Regions from separate parts of the Homo sapiens genome. Here region 1 is linked to region 2. The links come from fine-mapping of genetic effects on gene expression. A gene starts in region 2. The other region holds a variant in brackets. All regions are shown on one strand. Distances are from middle to middle.

Evidence for each region.
Region 1: its variant is fine-mapped to the expression of LINC02009 in esophagus muscle (GTEx, PIP 0.91).

Annotation. Positions count from the first base shown.
Region 1 is chr3:46,395,124-46,403,598 of GRCh38, forward strand. All of the region lies in intron 1 of CCR5AS (CCR5 antisense RNA), which reads right to left. Among named protein-coding and RNA genes, the nearest start is that of CCR5AS, 7.7 kb to the right of the region's middle. The variant T/G (reference allele first, on the strand shown) is at 4,562.
Region 2 is chr3:46,418,922-46,427,396 of GRCh38, forward strand. LINC02009 (long intergenic non-protein coding RNA 2009) reads right to left here and starts at 4,746. Exons shown (of 5, transcript NR_151704.1): 1 at 4,624-4,746; 2 at 3,764-3,877; 3 at 2,452-2,571; 4 at 596-742; 5 at 1-125.

The DNA.
Region 1 (8,475 bases), 24 kb before region 2:
GGAGGACTTGGATTATCAGGACTTTTAGGGAGGCATATGATCAAGGCTTGGGTCTTGGCCCATTGAAATGGGGAGCACTGGTTTTAGGATGTGGGTCAATTAGTTTGGTTTTCAGGACAGGCTGAGTTGGATATCCTGGGGGACCTCCAGGTGGCAGTGTCAGGGGAAGCTGGATGTGCTGACACTGAACTCAGCAGAGTGACTGAGTAGAGATCGACATCTGGGGTCACAGGCAGTGGATGCCGTAGGGGTGGACTCAATAGCTCAAGCAGAACCCGGAGGAATGCAGGCAGCAAAGGGAGCCCTAAAGAACAGTGAGGAGATGTGCCAAGAAAGAGCCAAATCCGGGGGATTGGCTGTGGGAGAGAGGGCTGTGGGAGTAAGAGGAAGTGTCAGCAACGTCAAATGTTGCAGAGACATAGAGTAAGGTAAGAGTGGAAAAAACATCCATGGAACCCTGTGATGCAATCGGAATGCAGAAAGACTTTGTAACTCCTGCCTGGTCTCCTCCTCTGCCCACTCATGGCAAAGGAATACAAAGTAATGTTCCCTCCTTCCGCCTAGAAAAGCACAACTTCTGCCCCCAAGCCCTGGGCTCTCCTGAGAGGACAGGACCAGCCTCTGAAGTTGAAGGTCCTGGTTCTGCCCCCAAGCCCTGGGCTCTCCTGAGAGGACAGGACCAGCCTCTGAAGTTGAAGGTCCTGGTTTACCAGATAGGGAAGGGGCCCTTTCCAAGACCCTTTCCAGAAGGTGTGGCTGAGATGGGAACCGTGGACTCTGTGCAGATGTAGGAGCTGGCTCCAGTCAAGTGCTAGGAGGTTGTGGGTCCTGGGAAGGAAGAGGCTCTGGAGCCTCTGTGGAGACTCTGGGACTGTCCTTGGGGGAGACGTGAGCAGGAAGAAGCAGGGCCTTCACAGTCCCCAGCTTAGGGGCCTCACCACCCAGACTGAAGACCAGGACCAAACCCTTTCCTGCACAGTTACAATGTGTCATTTAATTTTACTAAAGGGAATATTTTTTAAATGAGGATGCTACTTTGTGTATTAATTTTTACCTCTATTCATAAAAGAAACGTTTCTTATCTATTTAAGATGATTCATATCAGACCAGTGTCTGCCCAACTCGACTGACCCTGTGAAAACTGGGCACTTCACACTCCAATGATGATGGATGAGTCCCCAGCAGCATAGTTTAAGGGAGTGAGTGGGCAGTGTGGCCTCCTGTGCACGTGACTTCCTCCTTCAGTGTGCCCACATGTGGGTTCCACGGTCTTGTGACATTGTGGCTTTAGAAATTTCTGTTTCCATTTTCTATCATTCAGAGTAAATGAAATTTGCAGGAAATTCAGAACCTTCCACCTGTACAGTGGATACTGTGAGACTCTGCCCAGATGCCCTTTTCAAGCCAATGCATCTCTCCATGCTCCCACTCCCATAGATGGGAACAGAGGTGCTGGAACTCAGATCTACTCCCCTTTCTGGGAACTGGAGCTGCCTGCCCAGGCAATGCCCCCTTCCCAGGGATGGCTGAGCCAATGACTGGCTAATGTTGGATTGCAGAGGCCTAGCGCCCTCCCCTCAATTCCTAATTCCTTGTAGGAATAACTGAGGCCTCCTCTGTGACCACGTGGGCAGCTTCTCCCTCTGCCTGGTCCTGTCTTGTTCTCTCCTTTCCAATTGTGTCTCCTGGAAGCCCTCCCCACAAGTCTGCTGCATACAACTCTCCTTCTCAGAGAGCCTGAGCCCTGGATTCCCAGGAATCCAGCCTAAAATAGTCTGGCATTTGGTTTCAATTTTCTCTTTCACTAAGACTCAGTCACAGGTGCTAATAAATAATAAAATGTCACCACCTTGAATTCTATCACTCTCTCTTTTCTTGCCCCATCTCTGACAAGTAGGTGGTCCCTCAAGAACCTGAAAAGCAGACATTAGGAGGAAAGGAGGAGTGGGGGCAAGAGGCCCACACCTCACCTGGCCGGCTCCCATCCATGCGCCCTTGACTGAGGTAACACCTACCCTGGGAATCCTTCCCCTGCCTCTCGTGAGCCAGGCCGGGTGCTCTTGGGACAGCTCCCACTGCTCCTGTGTGCTCCCCCAGCTTGGCACATGACTCCCTGAATTATAGTCAGTTCCGTACCTGAATCTCCCTCTAGAATGCCAGTGCCACGAGGACAGAGGACGGTTCCACTTTGTTCACTATTTTCTCCCCAGGGTCTGGCAAAGTTCCTGGGACTTGGGAGAGGTGTCCTTCAGGAGCTTGGCAGAAGCCAAACGGCACACTTAAGTAGGGCAACTGAGGTGAGTTTAATGAAGGATTCTATACAAAAATTTGGACAAGGTATAGGGAGGCCACAATACACAGTGCAGTGCCTGGTGCCAGTGAGAGCAGGGCACTATTCCCACTGCAAGGCCAGACAGGGCAAGGGGAGGGAGCTGCCTGACAAGAGCTGCCCTTACGTCAAGGGACACATCAGCCCACTAGACCCCATCAGGAGGGAGCCAGGGCCTGACTCCCCTGACCTTGCTCTCCAATCTTCTGCCTAAAATTCCCCATCAGCCAAACACAACTGAAAACTGAAAGACAGGGGAGCCTGCTGTTAATAAGGTGAGCATCCCCCAGAATAAAGCTGGGTAGAGAGTGGAGAATGGATATGGAAGGGCAAAAGGAAGATTTATAAGACAGTGGGCACTAAATATCTATGAGATGAATAAAGGAACCACATTTTACAACAAACGGTCATTGAAACGCTACTCAATGGAAAGAGATCATTTCGGTCACTGTCTGGTGCAGACAAATCAAAGCCCACATGCATCAAAAAGGCCATGTCCGTGTAACTCCGACACGGGGCAGACAGCAAGGCTGAAGCCTATGGGGTATGTGGAGCCGGAACTGAGAGATCCTGATGTAAATCTAGCACTTGGGAAAAGGGGGACTAGAAGAAATTCACCCACAGGCAGAGGAAAACACAAACACTTATCTATTTTTGCCTAGGCTTTAAGTGGTATGGGAAAAATCTCTGAGACTACAAATCCTGTGCTTCATGCACAGGTTTATAATACCCTCAAAATGGAAGACCCCAAAACCCAGGCGCGGAAAATTCATATCAGGCCATTGATGCCCTCAATGTTCCCGGCTGAAACAAACTCAAAACTCCTCTGGAAAGGAGTGCTCCCACTTCAAGCCATGAAAAGCTACTGCAGAGAAAATAATCCCCAGTCAAGACACACTCACATTGAAACTGCAAGGCACACAAGGAAATGGATCACCTTGAGTGATAGCTGGCAGAGCTAATAAACCTCTGTATACCTCTAAGAAGCTCCACGCACTAGTATAACCCTTAAAGATTTGATGAAATCATTACTTTATTAAAATTGTTTTTATAAAAAATCAAAATCCAAAAAAAGCAACAAATTTTATACCAGAGCCAATTCGGTATATACAAGGGTGTCTTACTCTTTTGGAATTTGTCTTATTGTCCTAACTCAGCACATTGTCCTGGTCTATGAAAAGTCCTAGAAACCCTTCTACCCTCTGTAATGTAGGAGCTTTAACTCAATAGGGTTTTTTAAATTCTTTTTTCTTGTCTTTTTTTCTTTTTTAATTTTTTCCATTTTTTCAAGTCAAACTGAAGAAATATTTTTCTTTTCTTTCTAGGAATGCATATTCACCCCCCAAGGCCACTTGTCTCCTGATTGGAGAGTATTAGACAATTCTCAGGATTTCTTTATTTTCCTTCTTTATTCCATAGGATTGGGAAACCCAGTAGGATTGGGTTTAGGCATATCTCTAAAGCACCATGTTTCAACGTTTTGATGTAAGATTGTGCCCTATTTCTTGTTCAGTTGCTGCCAGCAGATGTTATAGTTTTAAAACTAGTTTTTGGTCATTGAGATATTAGAGGAGGGAAGAGTCTGCTATCCTGCTTTACTCATCTTCATCTACACTACACTGTCATCTTCACTGCAAAGTCCTGTATTAATGTTTTTAGATTCTATAACATTTTAACAGGTGTCAAAAAATCTTAAGCACCACTTCAGCTTGGGAATCTCTAAATGTAATGGTGTTTGTGGGCTGGACTGATGTCTGCGTCTTGTTGTTGTTATTGTCTGTAGTAATGGAGAGCCGGGAGATCCTGGACACTTCCTGTTCATGGGCACTTGATGCATTAGCTGCCCCAGCAGCTGATTACATTTAAACAAGGATGTGTGGGTGAACCCAGGGAGACCAATCTCAGTGGAATGGTGGGGGCAGAAGCCAGGCTGCAGGGTGTAGAGTAGGGAATGAGCAGTGATGAAGTAGAAACAGAGTTTGGACAACTAGTGAAACTGCCTGGAAGAGGGGGAGAAGAGACAGTAAATGGTCTGACCAATGTTTGAGGTCAAAGTGGGTTTGTAATCTTTATTTAAGGGACAGATCTGAGCATTTAAAAATTCTGAATAATCTAATAGAGAGGAAAAAGTTGGGACTCAAAGAAAATGTGGGAAAAAATGATGAAGGTTAAACGGAATGAGATCCAGAGTGCAGGGGGAGAGATTAGCCTTTGGTGTTAGAGGAGCAACTC[T/G]GTCCATGGAGAGAGGAAAAATGTAGACATACCACAGTTGCATTTGAAGTTGGGGCCTGAGGAGTTGAGGAGTTCTGAGAAAAGCAGAAGATGAGATCATTTCCTGAGAGTAAATGGGAGTCATTAGAACGGGGGTGAAGAGACTGGAAGCTTTAGGTAGCTTGAAATAGTTGATGGAAAAATTGGATAAAGTGACAATTTGTCACACTCAGAACAGCTATCAGGGAATCTAGAAGAATCTCTGGAAGCTAGTTGAAGATCTTAAATTACCAATGTATCTTGTCCACATAGCTAAGCGGTTTTACTTATTTTTATTTTTTTGAAACAGGGTCTCACTCTGTCACACAGGCTGGAGTGTAGTAGTAGTAGCACAATCACAGCTCAATGCAATCTCTGCCTCCCGGGCTCAAGCAATCCTCCCACCCCAGCCTCCCGGGCCTGGGACTACAGACACACACCACCACTCCCAGCTATATTTTGTACATTTGTAGAGACAGGGTCTCGCCATGTTGCCCAAGCTGGTCTTGAACTCCTGGGCTCAAGTAATCTGCCCACCTCGGCCTCCCAAAGTGCTGGGATTACAAGCTTGAGCCCGGCTGCTAAGTGGTTTTAAACAGCTGTTCTCGGAAACACACACTCAAAGAAAAAATGTAGAGGATAATTTATCTAAGGCTGGGGCTTCAAGAGAGGTCAGGGTGTTGACAAGAGAATGACTAAGTGGCAGACTACTGGATCTCAGCTAGATAAAGAGGGATGTGATCGTGGGAGGGGCTGATAGTCAGAGGCTGGAAGGCTTGATGAACAACACATATTACACAAAGAATAAATGGAGTGAGAGAAACCAAAGGAGTAAAAGTTGTCATCAGAAAAGTGAGAAATTTTATTGTGAGAATTCAGTGGTAAATCAATGTTAACAAACCTCAGCTGGGCACTAGTGGAGTGAAACCGAAGGCCAGGGAGTTGAGTTAATGAGCTGAGACTTGGGCACCAGATGGGGGTCCACATGGACAACTAAGCCACCAGGATGATGTGGGAAACTGGGGTGAATAGAAGCCCCTTATCCATGTGCACAAGTCTTGAATAAAATAGGGGCAACCAGGCAGTCAGTGGATGATAGCAGTGAGGTGGAGCAGAGAGCAATGTAGTTGGAGAAGTGGAGCCCACAGCAGTCTCCTTTATATCTAGAAGGGAATTAATAGCCAAAAAATGGCACCGAGGCCAAGGATGTCACCTTCTGACTCCCAAATCTGAGACAGATGTGAGAGGGAAGGAGTATCCTCAAGGGACAGGAGATGGTGCGAATGTTTTTGGCATAAATCAAAGATGTCAGGGAAATTGTCAGAATTCAGGTTCCAGAGACACAGAGGAAAAGCGTGGGAGAAAGTGGAATATTGGGAGGTGAGATTAGGGCAGAGGAAGCACAAATCAAAGAACGAGGAATAGAAAAAGTCATATGAGCTGAGGAGTTGGCCAAACATGACAGAATGGGAATATGATGGAATTAAGTGGCTTTATGTGTTCCAAAAGGATTGGTCCACGCAGGCCACAGGAAAATGGGAGGTAAGAAGAAAGGGATCGAAATGCTGCAAAGTGTATTACTTCATGGTAAGCAAAGGACTCAAGACTCTAGAAAATGATGCCCTTCCTTCCAAGACTATGTTAGTCCAAATCTTTCAAGATACAGAACCCAAGGTGGGGTCTGGCATACAAGAAGTATAATAGAGGAAATGTCTGTGACATTTGCAGGACTGCAAAGGGAGCCAGGAGAAGCTGGGAAAGCCATGAGATCACAAGCAGGTCTGACTCCAAGTGAAGGAGATGGGGAATGACGCAAGGTTTGGCTGAAGCATGTGCCAAAGGCACCCATCAGAGGAGTCCCTCTCCAAGGGATGGGCCTATCATAGTGTCCCTAATAGTGTCATGGAGTGGGAGCAGCCCACGGAGGGCACAGCCTTGGCATGAACGCAGACATGGGTCTCAGAGTGCAGCAGCTGGGCCCCTCAGTCAATTAGGCTCCCTCAGAGCTGGGGCAGGAGGTGCACTAGACCACACAGTAATATTTATTTATTATTAATTTAATTAATAATATTAATTTATTAATTTAATTAATAATATATTTATTTATTTATTATTACTAGACCACACAGTAGTATTTGTATGTCTAAGGAAGCATTTCTCAGAATATACTCACTGAACTTTTAGCCTATAAGTACCTGTATGAAAATTTTAAAAGGGGTTTCATGATCAAAACATTTTGGGAAACACTCCATACCCTTTCTTCCTCATGAAGGATCATAATGCCTATTAGTATATGAAGGGCTCTGAGAAGTCCTGTAGTAAAGAAACTTGCTTTAGTTTTTTAGTCCAGCAATTTTTCAAACTTAAATGAGCAATAGCCTCCCATCCTTTTTTTTACACTTTTTAGCATACTGCGGAATAAACTCAACATGCATTGAGAAAGACTGCTTTAGGGAATAGTCAACACTATTTCACTCCCAGTAAGTACATATAAAATCTGTATTTCCAGGGTGGATTATCAACACAGCTGTATTTTAGAAATATTATCTGCCCTCCCAGGTATCACAGCTACTAATTATTGGGTACTGAGGTGGAATTTTAGGGATCAGCCAATTATGGGAAAGAAAATCTGGGGGCAGGATAAGATGGTCTCCGAAGCCTTAAAATTATATGCCATTATTTACCTCTTTGATCTACTACTCAATATCAAACAACTAATTCAGAAGAAAATTGATTGTTTTCTAAAAGTAGTTTTTCTACATTTCCCATTAAGAAGCAGTGGTATTTAAAACTTATAATGGCTATTATGTGAGATTATCACTATCATAGTTTTTCTCTATACAAATTTTCTGTAACATTTTATTTGCTAATAAAAATTAGATAGATGGATTGACTAATTGATAATCTAAGAAAGATTATATTTGAAGAAGCCATAGTAAGGGACAGATTAAATTATCATCAGTCTAAACATTCTAATACCTATTTCTCTTTTTTTGAAATTTTCCAAATTTGTTATTATGCATTTAAACAATAATTTTTTGAACTTTTATTTTAGGTTCTGGGGTACATGTGAAAGCTTGTTACGTAGGTAACCTTTTGTCATGAGGGTTTGTTGTACAAATTATTTCATCACTCAGCTATCAAGCCCAGTACTCAATAGGTATCTTTTCTGCTCCTCTCCCTCCTCCCGCCCTCCAGTCTCAAGTAGACCCCGGTGTCTGTTGTTCCCTTCTTTGAGTTCATGTGTTCTCATCATTTAGCTCCCACTTATAAGTGAGAATACAAGGTATTTGGTTTTCTGTTCCTGTGTTAGTTTGCTAAGGGTAATAGCCTCCAGCTCCATTCGTGTTTCCACAAAAAAACATGATCTCGTTCTTTTCATGGCTGCATAGTATTCCATGGTGTATATGTACCACACTTTCTTTATCTAATCTGTCATTGATGGGCATTTAGGTTTATTCCATGTCTTTGCTACTGTGAATAGTGCTGCAATGAACATTCACATGCGTGTGTCTTCATGGTAGAATGATTTATATTCCTCTGGGTGTATACCCAGTAATGGGATTTCTGTTTTTAGCTCTTTGATCTAATACCTATTTCTCAAGATCAAGTTAGATCTCTAAAAAAGGCATCATCCTAGCATTTCCCCATCCCTTCCCTGAACTAAATTTAATGTTGTGTGTATCAATCAGCATACAGTCAAGACAGAAACCACACATGAACATTAAATATAATGAGTTATTAACTTATAAAAGGGTATGAACTACTAAAGGGGGTAAGGAGAATGCTGAAGAATGCAGGAATGGCAGATGTAGAGAGCAGCCATAACCTCTAAGCTAAGGCACAGCAGCCAAGGAAGGGGCGAACTCAAAAAATGCCCTCCCTCCCCAGCTGAT
Region 2 (8,475 bases):
AATGTATGTGCTAAGGCAAGCCATCTGCAGCTGCTAGAAGGGCGGTGCAGATCCAACAGTTGGAAACATTGGTCACTTCAGTGTAGGTGTGGGCCCAGTCCACAATGCAGTTGGAGCATGTTAACCTACAGTTGGAATGACAGAGTAGGCATAGGTACTAACAGAGGAAAATCACATCCCTCAGGTAAAATACAGGCTAACCTTTCATCCCTGGATAACAATGCAGCCCCCAAGGGGTTCTGCCCTGGGCAATAGTACCACACCTTTTCAGCTCCCCATGGTTCCTTTGGGTCCTGTATTCATGCGAAAGTCACAGGGGAGCTTGTAGTAGGCCACACAGACAGTACATTTGAACCCTGGAGGAAAGTTTCTTCCCTGGCCGTTTTCCTACAAACAGTTAACTTCGGGGACCATTCATTGAACACCCAAAGAGTGACATACAAGTCATACTGTAGGCCCTCCCCACAGGGAGCTACGATGGACAACCACCAGCAGCCGGGGGCTTGGAGGGGCTATGGCCACAGCCAGGTTTTCTGTTCCCCTGCCTTCAGGGACGTTGGGGCAGGCAACAACAGGTTACTGTTCATCCCCATACCTGGTCAGAGGCGGTTACCCTTGGTGTGTATCTGCAACTGAATAGGGGTGGTGGCCCATGTAACAAAGCCTCCACCTGGGCTGGGCTGCTTTTCCATGGCCATTCATTCAAGGTTTGGAGCATCAGGTCCAGCCTGGAACTTCAGCCCTGCAAAGACAGGAGTGTGACATGCAAGTAAAACCCATTCTTCAAGAGCTCGCTATATCACTCAATCATACCCACAGCTTGCAAGTTGTGCGGTACATGGAATCCCTACTTTATGTCCATTGTTGTGCCTGTTGTCCAGTAAAATGTGTCCCCCATCACTCTCAATGACCAAAGGGCAACCATATAGAGCACATAAGTGTTGCAGGGTCTGGATGGTGTGCTGTTGGTTGGCCACCCTGCAAGGATAGGCAAACAACAGGCCTGTGGCTGTGTCCACAGCTGTTAGCGCATGAGTATACCCTTGTGACTTCGGCAGCAGCCCAATGTAGTCTACTTGCCACCTGGTCAAGGGCACTTGCCCTGTTGTCACTTGTGTAGCACTGGACAGCTGCCTCCATTTAGGGTATGCCTGAGCACATGCCGGGCATTTCTGACAAGCCTCCCAAATGTCTTGCATGGGCAGAGACAGACCCCAACATTTATTGACTTGTTGCATCAGTTTACCCCCTGCATGTCCCAGTTTCCGGTGTAGCTACAAGGCCACATCTCATGTAGATGCCAACTCTAACCATCGGACCTTGGCCAAGGCTTCTGCCTCGTCATTGCTGGGGGTGGCCAGAGGCATATGGCCTGACAAATGATAAATAGTTACATCTTTGCAATGACCCATTTCCCAGAGGTCTTGCTACATGGGTTGGTGGCCCCAAATGGGTTGGTGGCCAACTAGCCAATTCTGTATTTTCCAAGTAGTTAAACACAAAGTTAGGCCTCCATAGACTGCCCAGCTATCGGTACGGATTACCATAGGTGTCTCCGCCTTGTTGATCACCATCCATACTGCTTTAAATTCAGCCCATTGACTACTTTGTCCACATCTGGTTTCAAACCATATGGTTTTGGTACTAAGTTGGACTGCAACACTGGTCCAAGCAGGAGTAGCACCTCGACTAGACCCATCTGTGTGCCATGCCCCATCAGGAATAGAGGGACGCCCTTCCTTAAATGGCAGTGGCTCAGGGTCAAGGGGTGCCTCAGGCCCCATGGCCTTCTCTTGCATTAGGACTGCAGGTCCCAAGACCTCTTGCAACTCTGCTGCTAATGGGCTTGTGCTCAGCGTACTCTGTTGCTCCAAGTAAGTGCCTCACTTTGCCAAAGTGGATGTCTGCACCATCCCAGTCTGGGGGGTCATTACACATGAATGCACCCATCCCGCTGTCAGGTAAGTCATCCACACTGTGACTGTAGCCCATCCTATCACTTCTCACAAGCCTGAAGGGCAGCATATACAGCTGCTAGCTATTTCTCTATCAAGGAATACCAGAGCTCAGCTCCTTTCCATAGTTGGGACCAAAAGCCTCCTGGCATTCTCAGGCACTCTGTGTGCTGCCACAGGCCCAAACTAAAACCATCTGTGGTCACATGCATATCCAGTTCAAATGGGCACCCCTTGTCAAATACCCACAGGGCTCGTGCCTGCTGAATAGCCCACTTGGCTGCCAGGAAGCCAGTCTCAGCCACATCAGCCCAATCCCAGATTGCTCCCTTCTTTGTTAACTGATACAATGGTTTTATCATTTGAGCTAAATGAGGCAGGAATGTCCACCAATATCCCAGGAGGCTCACAAAAGTTTGCAGCTGCCTCACCGTGGTGGGCCAGGGATATGCCTAAATTTTGTCAATGATAGCCTCTTGTATGGCCTTCATCTTACCCGACCAGATAACTCCCAAGAATTTAGCAGGTAATCCAGGCCCTCGGACCTTGGATTTGTTGATGGCCCAACTGCATGCTGCCAAATGTTGCCACAAGAGGGGTGCCACTGCTTCTAAATCTGCAAGAGAATCAGAGGTTAACATAATATCATCAACGTAATGGAACAAGTGGACTCCCTTTGGACATTTTCAGGCTGTTAAATCCATGGCAACAAGACCATGACATATGGTGGAGCTATGCACATAGCCCTGCAGCAACACTGTGAAAGTCCATTGTCATCAAGGCAAACTGTTCCTGGCTCTCTAGAGCAAGGTCAACTGAGAAGAATGCATTGGCCAAGTCCACCACATAGTGGTACTGTCCTAATTCCATTGTCGAGTGGTTCATCAAATCCATGATAGATGGCACAGCTTCCAAGCCATGTAAAATATCCACCTCCAGAATGTATTCAGGTATGGGAGAGACATACACAGTGTATAAGCAAGGAGCCAAGTGGCCAATGCCAAGGTACAGAGATACAGGTTTCACTTTCACTGACTGGCCTCCGTAACCTTTAATATATGCAGATTTGCCCAAAAACTTAACTGGGTTCCCATAAACAAGGCTACAATCTATGCCAGTATCTACCAGCACCAGCACCCACTGTACATTGGTGGGGGACCAGTGGATTGCCAATTCCACATGTGGCCTCTGGTCATCTGGTGTCCCCCCAAGCCAGACACCTTTGGCCAGTTCCCTAGTTGAACAGAAAAGGCTCTACATTTCCACCTGGCTGCAGCAAGTAGTCTCTGAGCTGGGTAGGACCAGGTCACACAGCAATGCCTTTCTCCCCTTTGGGCATTTTCCGGAATTGCTGCCCTGCATACAACTGTCTCCGCAAAGTTAGGAGTATTTCATTGGGCTGCTTATCAATTTTCTCTCAGTCAACCCCAGCCAAAATCAAATCTATCCACATCTGTGAGCGTGTCACTCGTTGGGGCCCCCTTTTTTTATGGGGGAGCCCCCTGTGGGTGGGGTAACTTCCCCTTCTTTATGGTGTGGACCCTCCAATCCCCCTGAAGGCCTTCTGCTTCCCTGAGAGCCGCCATGGCAGTGGTTACTTCATGTATGCGGTGCCCTACGTATGGGGTGAGGACAGCAGCTAGGGAGCCAAAGGGGCTCAGGAGCATCAAACCCAACATGAGATCCCTCATGTGGGAGGTGAAACATTTATCATCTGGCCCTCAGGTATTCAGGACAAACATAGCCTGCCGCATACCCATCTCCCGAATGACTTACACCAAATTGGCATATGACTGCCATTTACTCACAGTTTTGGGCATTTCACCAGCATTATTCCACACAGTTCATATGGCTGCCTGTAGCCACTCAGTCAGGGTGTGGTCTCCTTGCGCTGCCACTAACCACCTGCTCACTTGCAGCCGCTGACAGAGAGAGGGGTGAGTCATGGTGGAGGCCAGCTTGTCCATCTCAGAGGTGGAATGGGAGATACCATCTGCTCCCTTGTTCCACAGACGAAGCATCCAGGCAGGCAGGGGTTCCCCTGGACACTGGCAACACTGCTTGCCTAATTCCTGCAACTCAGTTGGGGTACAGGCAATATACGAAATGTGTTGCATTATGGTGGGGAGTCCCTGAGTCCACCCTTGGAGCCCCAGTGGCTGTTCATGATCTACCTTCTGTCAGACCACCGGGTGAGCCCGCAACAGGGGTTCTTCCTCCTTGGTATGAAACTGAGTGGGGATCTCCAGACAAGATGATGGACCCAGGCCTGCATTCATGGTAGCCTCTAATTCCTTTTCCAAGCTCTGAAGCCACACCTCCAGGCATCCTGCCTGCACCTGGAGGTCCCCATTCATGGCAGCCTCTAATTATTTTCCAGATCGGTGTAGCCAGACCTCCAGTCTGCATCCCTCAGGGACTGGGTGTGTACTTTTCTTAGCACAGTTAAAAATGCCCATCCAACTCTGCCAGCAAAGGCTCTCTCCTTCTTGGTGCTCTGCACTTCCAGCTGCTTCAGCGCCTTCTCCATGCTCATGGGGGACCCATCTACTGCCACCCAGGTTTCCACTCAGGCCCACCCTCACAGCACGGCTACCACCGGGTACCACAACCCATGTTGTGGTCACATGGCCAACCTGGAATCAGCAGGGACCGAAGGCTCACTTACCTTAGGATCCTGTTCGTGATGCCAATTGTCAGGTTCTAGCCCAAACTAAAGTCCAAGGGGAGTTGGTGGGTGGGTGGCAGGTAACTGGAAAAACACTCGAGTAGGCGGTTTCGACATGGCTTTATTCTCTCTCTGGGTGCAAGCCATATGTAGTGTCAGCAGGGTAATTTTACCTTTTACAGACAATAGTGGCTTTGAGCCAAGCACGTGCTCATATGAGTGGTCACCTAATGCACCTCACATGGCATGGTTACATAATGTGTGGAGTTGTGTGCCTGCCTCCAAACCCACTGAGTCATGCTGCACCAGAAGGCTGCCTCGGCCTACTCCTGACTAAAGCACAACCATCTCCCTTAGAGTGGGCTAAATCTACTGCTATTTATACTATTAGAAATTTTAACACAGAAGTTTTAAATATTTACATTGTTAATTGATTTTGAAATAATAAGCCCATTACAGGTTAACATAATTAACATACTTTTATTAAAAATATCTGTATTTTTTAAAAGAAAAAAAATTAGCAACAACAGTGATCCTTGGAATCGTCCCACCTCAGCCTCCCAAGTAGCTGAGACCACAGGCGCACATCACCATGCGAGCTAATTTCTATATTTTTTGGTAGAGATGGGATCTTGCCATGCTGGCCAGGGTGGTCTCGAGCTCCTAAGCTCAAGTGATCCTCCTGCCTCGGTCTCCCAAAGTGCTGAGATTACAGGTGTGAGCCACCACTTCTGGCCAGAAGCTGGATTCTCTGTCTTGTTCTCCATCCAATCTGTTAGACTGTCAAATGCCAAATAACCTTTGGAAAATTCTACTCGTAAAATAAGGAGAGAGATAAATAACTTCTGAGTATCATCATTAAAATAGTTTGACCTCATGGACCCACTGGGTCCCATGTGGAGAATAGCTCTAAGCTAAAGAGTAGAATGGCTGGGAGGGGACATAAACATTCAGCCCATAGCTGCTGACCACAATAACACATTTTAAGTCTCTTCCTCTCCTGCTCCTTGTGATTGCAGACAGACTCAATCTGTAGGAGAGCTGTAGAGAGAACAAGCTCAAGCCCCTGATTTTGCCTACAAAGAAAGCTGAGCCCAGCAAAGTTAAGGGACTTACCCAAGGTCACACAGCCACACAGCAGAGCTGGGGCTGAGCTCCAGGTGTCCTGCTACAGAGGCCACTTCTTTCTCCCACTAGGGACTGGCCTGTGATTACTTCAGAAAACAATGGTCAGCTAACTGATTCTGAACGCCCTTTGCTGGTAAAAGCTAATCTCCTGAGGAAAAATGTATGCATTGGCTGGGCGCAGTGGCTCAAGCCTATAATTCCAGCATTTTGGGAGGTGGAGACAGGTGGATCACTTGAGGTCAGGAGTTTAAGACCAGCCTGGCAGTCATGGTGAAACCCCGTCTCTACTAAAACTACAAATATTAAGCTCGGCATGGTGGCAGGCACCTGTAATCCCAGCTACTGGAGAGACTGAGGCAGGAGAATCGCTTGAACCCAGGAGGCGGAGGTTGCAGTGAGCCGAGGTCGCACCACTGCATTCCATCCTGGGCAACAGAGTGAGATTCTGTCTCAAAAAATAATAATAGTAAAATAAAAATAAATAAAAAAATAAGTATGCATCACCTCAGGTGGTCAGTCAGCTTTCCCAAGACCCCAAAGCACACAATGTTCTTTCTGGTATGAGTGACATGGGGTTCACAGCACCACAAAGTCCATGACTTTTCCCTCAGAAGTGAATGCATGGCTAATTATTTTGTATTTTTTGTAGACATGGAGTTTTGCCATGTTGCCCACGCTGCTCTCAAATTCCTGGACTCAAGTAATCCACCCACCTCAGCTTCCCAAGGTGCTGGGATTACAGGCATGAGACACCGCATGACCTGCACCTATAGTCCCAGCTATCAGGAGGCTGAGGTGGGAGGATCACCTGAACCGGGGAAGTTGAACCTGCAGTGAACTGTGATCGCTCCGGTGCACTCCATCCTGGGCAACAGAGTGAGATCCTGCCTCAAAAAAAAAAAAAAAGTGAACACACATGCTGGGGAAGAGGCCTGCAGGCACCCCTGCCAGTTCTGCACCAGAGCACACTGTAGCAGCCCTGCTGTGATGCAGGAAGCAGCTCCAGGTCCTGCAGTCTGAAGCATGGAGCCTGAAGCCTGGAGCCCCCCATCCAATGCTGCGCCATGCTCACCAGTATCCCCCAGCATCAGCACCGAGGCACCAGCTGCAGATAAATTTCTCACCTAAAATGTTGAGAGATGTTGCTAAACTGTCCTTCTAAGGGTATGTATAATAATACGGTCCTGCCGATACTGAATAAGACTATCTGTTTCATTACATCCTCACAATACTGAATATCATTAGCAACTTGAATTTTAAATTGTGCTAATCAATGAAAATGATTGCCTAATTACTAGTGAGTTGAGGTTATTTAACATTAATACTCCTTCTGATGAAATATTTTGCATTTATCACATTTTACATAAATTCTCTCTATATAATTAGCACTAGAATGTCCGACTTGGTTTTCATTGTTCCTCACCTGTTTGGAAACACATTAAGAATGAGGGAGAGAATGGATGGGGACTCACCTAGGGATGCATGGAGCTGGTCGGCAGCCACTCTGAGGCCCTCTTAACACTTCCCCACCACACACTTAATTTCCCCTGGTTTGTCCATAGATACATCCAACAATTTTTATGTAAATAAGAAAGACTCAGCTTTCAATGGAAAATGGTAGGTTGGATTTTATGACTGAAGTGGCAAAAAGAAATAAGGGATTTTATTATGGGGGAGGTCCAAACCCTGGTGAAAAACGAAATTCATTGAAATTGTTTGAAAATTCAAGGATTAAATCAGATTATTTTGGATTCAGTAGGAATTAGATTACTTTAAAGCCCCAGGATACTTTATTCTGTAGAATGCATGGAAAGTATAGAAAAGAGAAACAAAGAGGGAAAGTCATGGCTAATAACCTGGAAGGGGTAAATAGGGAGCCAAAGGCCTGTGGGACGTAACCAACTCAGCATTCCACTGGAGGCTTTATGATCAAATAGCAAGCTATTTATCATGAATGCAGGATGTGGGCAAACTCACGACTGCTCCCACTGCCAGAAGGTTTGCTGAGGGCAATCACTTCCTGGCACCGAGCTCCTTGAGGTTATCTACTGGGACATCTGGAGAATGCAGTCTTGCAAGCCTACTCTGGACCCAGCAGCTGACCCCTTCTTCCATGCCCCTCTTCCTGCTATCTCTTTTGCCTAATAAATATGGAGGGCTGTGTAAAGCTCAGGGCCCTTGTCCACTAGAGGCAAACTGCCCGCTGACCCCTTCTTCCAAATATGCTCTTTTGTCTCATGTCTTTTATTCCCGCTTTCACCCCACTTTGTTCAGTCCCCCTAGGTCCGTGTGGGTTACATAGTGGCGCCCTGAACAGCGACAGAATCAGGTGCTCTACAAGTGGCGTCCGAACACAGGGACTATGAGGATGTGAATGAAGAAGATCTGCTGGAGCAGAGGAATTGAAATTGACAAGGTGAATGGGGATCCCGGGACAAGTCTGCCGGCAGCAGATATAAGGTCAGTGCCCTAAAGAGCTACTGGGAGCAGTGCCTTAAAGTAGTACTGGGAATGGGAAGTTTTCTGAATCAGGGTAACATGGGGCAGAATTGGTCTGTTGAAGAAAAACATTATGTGCAGTTGCTTAAAGTTTTGTTGAAACAAACTGGTGCTCAGGTTAGTTCTCACATTAACTACGATGCTACAGGAAGTCATTATGCATAACCCATGGTTTCCACAGGCAGGGACTCTTGATGTAGAAAATTGGGATAGAGCAGAAGGATG